2 linked regions of the Homo sapiens genome follow. The protein of the gene in region 1 purifies or fractionates together with the protein of each later gene. This does not show direct contact. Each region holds a gene or a part of one and is shown on either strand. Other genes may lie near its edges.

What was found. The genes of interacting proteins can lie anywhere in the genome.
Region 2: the proteins of SLC10A2 (region 1) and ACSL6 purify together in Homo sapiens (affinity purification with mass spectrometry; one large-scale study listed by BioGRID and IntAct). This does not show direct contact.

Annotation. Positions count from the first base shown.
Region 1 is NC_000013.11:103,043,498-103,046,457, reverse strand, and holds the end of SLC10A2 (ileal sodium/bile acid cotransporter), read left to right. Parts: intron 1-197; coding exon 198-325; 3' UTR 326-2,460; downstream 2,461-2,960. UniProt on the Homo sapiens protein: Plays a critical role in the sodium-dependent reabsorption of bile acids from the lumen of the small intestine. Transports various bile acids, unconjugated or conjugated, such as cholate and taurocholate.
Region 2 is NC_000005.10:131,966,659-131,970,158, forward strand, and holds part of ACSL6 (long-chain-fatty-acid--CoA ligase 6), read right to left. Parts: coding exon 3,470-3,500; intron 1,371-3,469; coding exon 1,282-1,370; intron 1-1,281. UniProt on the Homo sapiens protein: Catalyzes the conversion of long-chain fatty acids to their active form acyl-CoA for both synthesis of cellular lipids, and degradation via beta-oxidation.

The DNA of each region.
Region 1 (2,960 bases):
GGTCTTCCTGAAGTGCAGTCATCCCTCTCGCCATGAGTAGCCATAGAACTAAGAATGGTGATTTCTTTCTCTAAGCAGCCTCCAGTCTACAGAAAATGTGATCTGCCATGTGAATCATAGGTTATAATCTCTATGCAAAGTAATTTTGCAGTTTATTATTATAAAATTTACTTAACTGTCTGTGTATTGTTTTCTAGTTTATGTGGCATACAAGAAATGTCATGGAAAAAACAAGGCAGAAATTCCAGAGAGCAAAGAAAATGGAACGGAGCCAGAGTCATCGTTTTATAAGGCAAATGGAGGATTTCAACCTGACGAAAAGTAGACATCAAGTGGACAAAACAGACGAGTTCCAAATTACGTTCTTAAACCGTAACTATATTTAATTATTTGTTTTGGTAGGACAGTTGGCAGAAAAGAGTTAAAGTGAAAATTGGAATTTCATTGGAATTCATGTATTGGTTTCAGTACCAAGTGACTGGTGGCCCAATTCTTTAATGGGACAAATATTGTTTCCTATATATATGTATATGTTTTATATATGTATGTATACTCATATAGATATATTGTCATTGAAATATTCCCCCAAAATATTCTCAGACTAAACCTGACATAGGGAACACCGAGAATGAAAACATCTTTAACACCAAAACTGAATTCTTATGCAGAATTTCCTAGCCCATAGATGACAACCTGACTTTCTGTATGTTAAAGTAGATGTAATGAATTATTATTATTACAGTGGTCACGATTTTCTTCAGTGTTTATGATTATAAAAATTGACATGAACATCTTTCACTGACATTTTAATCATTATTTTAAAAGCTTTGCAACCTATATATTTATATAACTTTGTAATATAACATGGGCAAATATCTGACTTCTGTATTTTTAAAAAGTTGCCTTCTCCAGTGGCAGTCCAAAAGCAGAAATGAGAGGAAATTATTACAAAATAGAATTCAATAACCATATTGGATGCAGGCTCTTAACTCAGCAGGGATATCGTACATCTATTGCTCTACCTCAGGGGTCCAGTGATACCCACTAGATCTTCCAAGGAAAAACATAATTCTTTCAAACGGTGTGTATTTGGCAAAGAGCTCTTCAAATCTGGGAGAGGGACTTCCTCAAGGTTTTCCTGTGTGCAGTGGATCCACATAGCTAATATGACAGCTAGTCAGTTGACAGGGACCACCCACAGTAAGCACCATGGTCAGGGAGGTGGCAGGAGGTGCAAAGACAGAAGTATTGAGAGAAACACCAAGACTCTAGTGGAGGAATTAATTCAATGGGAGATAGTATAAAATACATAGAAAACACAAGTAACAGAAACCTGGTTGAAATGCTTAACTAGAGTCAATTAGATGTGCAGGAGTAAGTAGTATAAGAAGAATCAAGTCCGAGAGTGATCAGGAAATGAGTATTAAACAGTATTTGAAACAGAGAACGTGTCCCAGGGCCCAAAAGTCAGAAGGGCCCCACCAGCCAGGAAAGTTGTTTCAATGCTGTAAGTAGGTGTAGCCAAGGGAAGCCAGGACTATCTGATATACGGTAGCAGGGGTTTACGGCTGCCAGGGGAAAATAACTCATCAAGTGTTGGACTTTCAATTATAAGATCGAATTTAATTTCCTTTCCCTCATTCTGCAGCAATCAGAATACACAATCTTAACCACTCGGTCCTTAGTGGTTTTGTTCCATTTTGCATTGGGTATTTTCACTGCCTCATAGAGTCTATTTCAAGTGTTTTGGCTGAAAGGGCTTTTTGCATTTGCATGTTCTGAGTTCAGATTCTGCTGGTGCACCCAAGCATTATGGGAACAGGAACTCAACTTAGCTCTTCCAGTAGAGGGGTGAGGGATTCTGCTTTTCAAATTCATAACATTGATCTTTTTATGCAAGATTTCCATTTACAGTTGAATAAGTACTTCATATTTTTCCATCATTAGACAAATACAAAATGGACTAAATAATTTTAAGAGATAGTGGAGGAGAGGGGGTACAGACTTCCTTCTTAGAGAGTGTCAGAGAATATGCTCCCAATGGTGGAAAGGAAGATTTACAGTCTAGCGGCTAAGTACCTCCTACACATTTCCCATCAATCAGAAAATAGACAGGTACACTAAAGGGACCCTGAGAACTCCTCTTGTAATTTCAACACACCCAAAATCAAGGGCCTGGATGCCAGCAGCTGCAGCAAGCAGGTTTTTCCTCCCTGTTGAGCAAGACAGGTGAGCAAGATAGGACTTGGCTTTCTTACATGATGCGGTAACTTGTGACTTGAGTCTTTTTCCCTAATTTGCTAGTGGGAAGAAAAATAGCTGAGCTTTCTAAAATGATAGCTCTCTATTTTTAAATGAATTTGAAAAGTCGATTAAATTATGTATTTTATTGCCTCTGAGTATCATATTAAATGAATATTTTATTTTAAAGGCTTAAATAAATGAAAATGATTTTTGTAATGTTTGGTCTAGTTGAATCTTTGTGACTTGTGTCAAGATTTTCTCACTGCTCAGTTCTAGAGATACAAATAAGGTGGAGTTTCTCAGATATTAAATTGTTCTTTGAAAGGTGCCTGAAAGAAACTCTTAATTAAACACTCTCATAATTCGGTCTCCCACTGATACTGACTGGGATTTTCCTCCAGAAAATCATACAGGGGGAACATTAATTAAATACTCTTAAAAATAGTTTGACAATGATAGCTGATTTAAAATAATAATGAAAGTATTTCATGAACTTACAAATGAAGCCACCATCTTCTACGAAATGGTGATGTATATACATATATATACACGTGTGTGTATATTTACACACATACACAATGATAGCCTATTTAAAATAATAAAAGTATTTCACGAACTTACAAATAAAGCTTTCACCTCCTACAAAATGGTGATAAATGATATATGTATATTATACATATGACATATATATAATATTATATATGTCACATATATTA
Region 2 (3,500 bases), on another chromosome or scaffold:
ATGGAAACAGAGGACAAGGAACAGCCAGCAGCCATCTGAACTGTCTCCTGCCTTCTGTCAAGCAACATCCTCCCCATCTTTCCCCCCTGCCCTGGCCACCCTAGGCCTTTGTCATCTCTTCTCCCTCAGGAGCCCTCTGGCCTTGGCCACATGCTGCTCTGTGACACTTGATGGGGACTCATCACAGATATTGATGGCTGGCTGATTCTACCAGGGATGCTTCAGCCCCCTGCTCCATTAGCAGGCAATCATTCCCACTTACTCCCATGGAATGAACAAGTACAGGCCAGCTCTATCTACTCCATCTGGCCTATTTGTAAAGGATCATGTTTCTGCTGGGACAGATCACACAGCAGCAGGCCATGACACAGTTAGGGGAAAAAATGAATTTTTACAAAATTTGGGGCTGGGCATGATGGCTAGCACCTGTAATCCCAGTGCTTTGGGAAGCCGAGGCAGGAAGGATTGCTTGAGGCCAGGAGTTTAAGATCAGCCTGGGCAACACAGCAAGACCCAATCTCTAAAAAAAAAATAAAAAGTTATCTTGGCAAGGTGACACATGCCTGTGGTCCTAGCTACTTGAGAGGCTGAAGCAGGAGAATTGCTTGAGCCCAGGAGTTCGAGGCTATGGTCTCGAGTTCAGTGGACTATAATCACGCCACTGCACTCCAGCCTGGGTGGCAGAGCAAGGCCTTGACTCTATTAAAAATTTAATTAATTAAGGGCCAGGCACGGTGGCTCACGCCTGTAATCCCAGCACTTTGGGAGGCCGAGGTGGGCGGATCACGAAGTCAGGAGATTAAGACCATCCTGTCTAACACGGTGAAACCCCGTCTCTACTAAAAATACAAAAAAAATTAGCCAGGTGTGGTGGCGGGCACCTGTAGTCCCAGCTACTTGGGAGGCTGAGGCAGGAGAATGGTGTGAACCTGGGAGGCGGAGGTTGCAGTGAGCAGAGATCACACTACTGTACTCCAGCCTGGGAGACAGAGCGAGACTCCGTCTCAAATTAATAATAATAATAATAATAATAATAATAATTAATTAATTTAAAAATCTGGGAATTCCAAATCTTTATTTAAACCAGCTCAGTCCCAGCACTAGCTCTTGGTTGCCTCATAAACAGGAGAGGAGATGCTGAGTTGAGCTGAGTCAAATTAATCAGTAGTTTAAAATGACTTTATACACAAGGCAAAAGGAAAATCATTCCATCCCTACTGTTCTTGTTTTTACTCACTACATGTAGCAGCCACAGGCATGAATGGCTAAATCCTTGTTTACCTCTCCCTCTCCTTTGCAGGCCCAGTAGTTCAGTTCCTCAACATCAACGAGCTTGATATGATTGCAGGGAAGTGGCGCCCCTACGTGCCCTGGAACACCGGAGCAAGATGGCATTTGTTAGTGTTCAGATCTGTTTTAGCACTGAAGATGTTCCAAGCCCCTTAAAATCTCTGAGTGGCCAAAGTGGGGAATTATGGATGGAAAGTAACACATCTTTAAAGGGGCATTTGTTACTGCAAGTGTTGGTAATAAAACAAAGTGCTGGAGAAAGCAAAGGCCAATCTCTGCCTGGGCATTTGTTTTACATCCGATTCTTAATAAGCAGGACAGGCACACCTGGCCCAGCACCAACGTGCACAGGGTCCTGGGTAGGGTAGGATGGGGGGCATCAAACACAGGGTCAAGATTTTTGAAAATGGTGGCCACATTAAATCATTTTCCCCATTGTCAGATCACACGTCTTGGTTTGGGGATCATAAAATATAGCAATCATTGCTTTTCCTCTAGCCACCAGACTGTTGATTACTATGCTGGAAATCTAGAAATCATAAGCTGTGGATTCTGATTCACTGGGTTTGGAATGGGGCCTGAGATTCGACATTTCTTACAGGCACCAAGGCGATGCTGCTGCTGGTCCCACACCACATGTTGAATAACAAAGGAATGGAAAGCTGGGATGAAGAAACTTGCCCCATGAAAATAAGACTCCAAATTCTCTTGGTCAAATTTACCACAAAATTACATCTAAGTCATTTTTCTAGTGATTGTGGTTGTTAGATAATTCACTGGCAAGTTGGAGGAGTTTTAAGCAGATGCTAGCCAAGGTCCTGAAAGAAAATTGAGCCGCGTATATGAAAAATGAGGCTTACCACCTTGGTTTCTCTTTTAAAAGAGAGGCTGTCAAATTTTTGGCAATACTATTCAAAGATATCAATCCTTATACACAAAAGCCTTTTCAAGTTTTATGCTAAGAGTGAACTGAAAAAGGGAAAAACCTCAGCAGTGTTTACATAGGAAAATGTAAAGGATGACTTGAGAGGGAAGAGATACATGTCCAAAAGGAAGGGATACATGAGGGTAGATACTGGAAGAATCTGCTCTACATCTGATGGGTAATCCATGGGCTGCCTACTACAGACCTGTTTCCCCTTTTGCTGAAAACCACTCAGCAAAAGAATCCTTCAGGATACTGACTTCCTTTCCAAGCCTGGGGCCACTCTTTGTACTTAAGTTTGCTCAGCTACAAACTGGAAAATTTTAGGATGATGTGCATGTGAAAGAAATATGCTGTTTAATGCAATATTATTTTCAGAGTACCTTGAGATAGTCAGCAGAAACAGGATAGGTGGATTTTAAACTGAAATCATATTTGGCCAAGCTAAGTATAGAAGCATTTTTTCCTTAGTCCTGTCTTTTAAAATTATAGTTGAATAAAACCTATTTTGTAAATAAGTTATTTAATCAATTTGCTGCTGGCAGATCTCCCACAGGAACCACCTTTGGAGATTATTGTGTTTTTTTTTTGTCACAGGTTTTAGTATTTTCCTATTTCTTTTATAGCTAAATAGAAGTTATGCACAAAAGAAGTAATAGATCACAAGATACAACTCCAGATGGAAAAATGTTTATAATATCAGTATATTGGATTTTTATAGATTCTAGATACTACATGGCCTTGCTTATAGTATTTTAGAATGAAGGAAGCAGGCTATGAATTGGACCTGACGTGTAAAGGAGAGGCAGGTTCATAGGGGCCAGGGTACTGTTTCTTAAAGGGCCATTTTAGAGGCCCTTTGAGAACTACGTTCTCCTGTGATATCAATGTCTCAAAGGCAGCGGCAACCTCAAAAAGGAACAGCTCTCATCCACACCCTCATTCTGAGGAGATTCATCCTTCAGGGCCAAGGGAAAGCAGGGCTGTAGTGGGTAGCCCATGGATTACTCACCAAATTTAGACCAGATTCTTCCAGTGTGTTAAGGATGAATAAAAAAGGGAAAAACCTCAACAGTGTTTACAGATTCACAATGCCACAACCCAGACATAACCACCATTAATGTTTTTTTCTGTCTCTTTTGCTTTATTCCTAAGTACCCATGCAAATTTACTTTCCATGAGGGAGTTTTAGAGCTGGCTGCTTTTACTCCACAGTGCCTCGCGAGCCAGTCCTATATCTCTAGCCCATCCTACCTGAGGTCCAGTCGCCAGGAGTGGTGAAGGT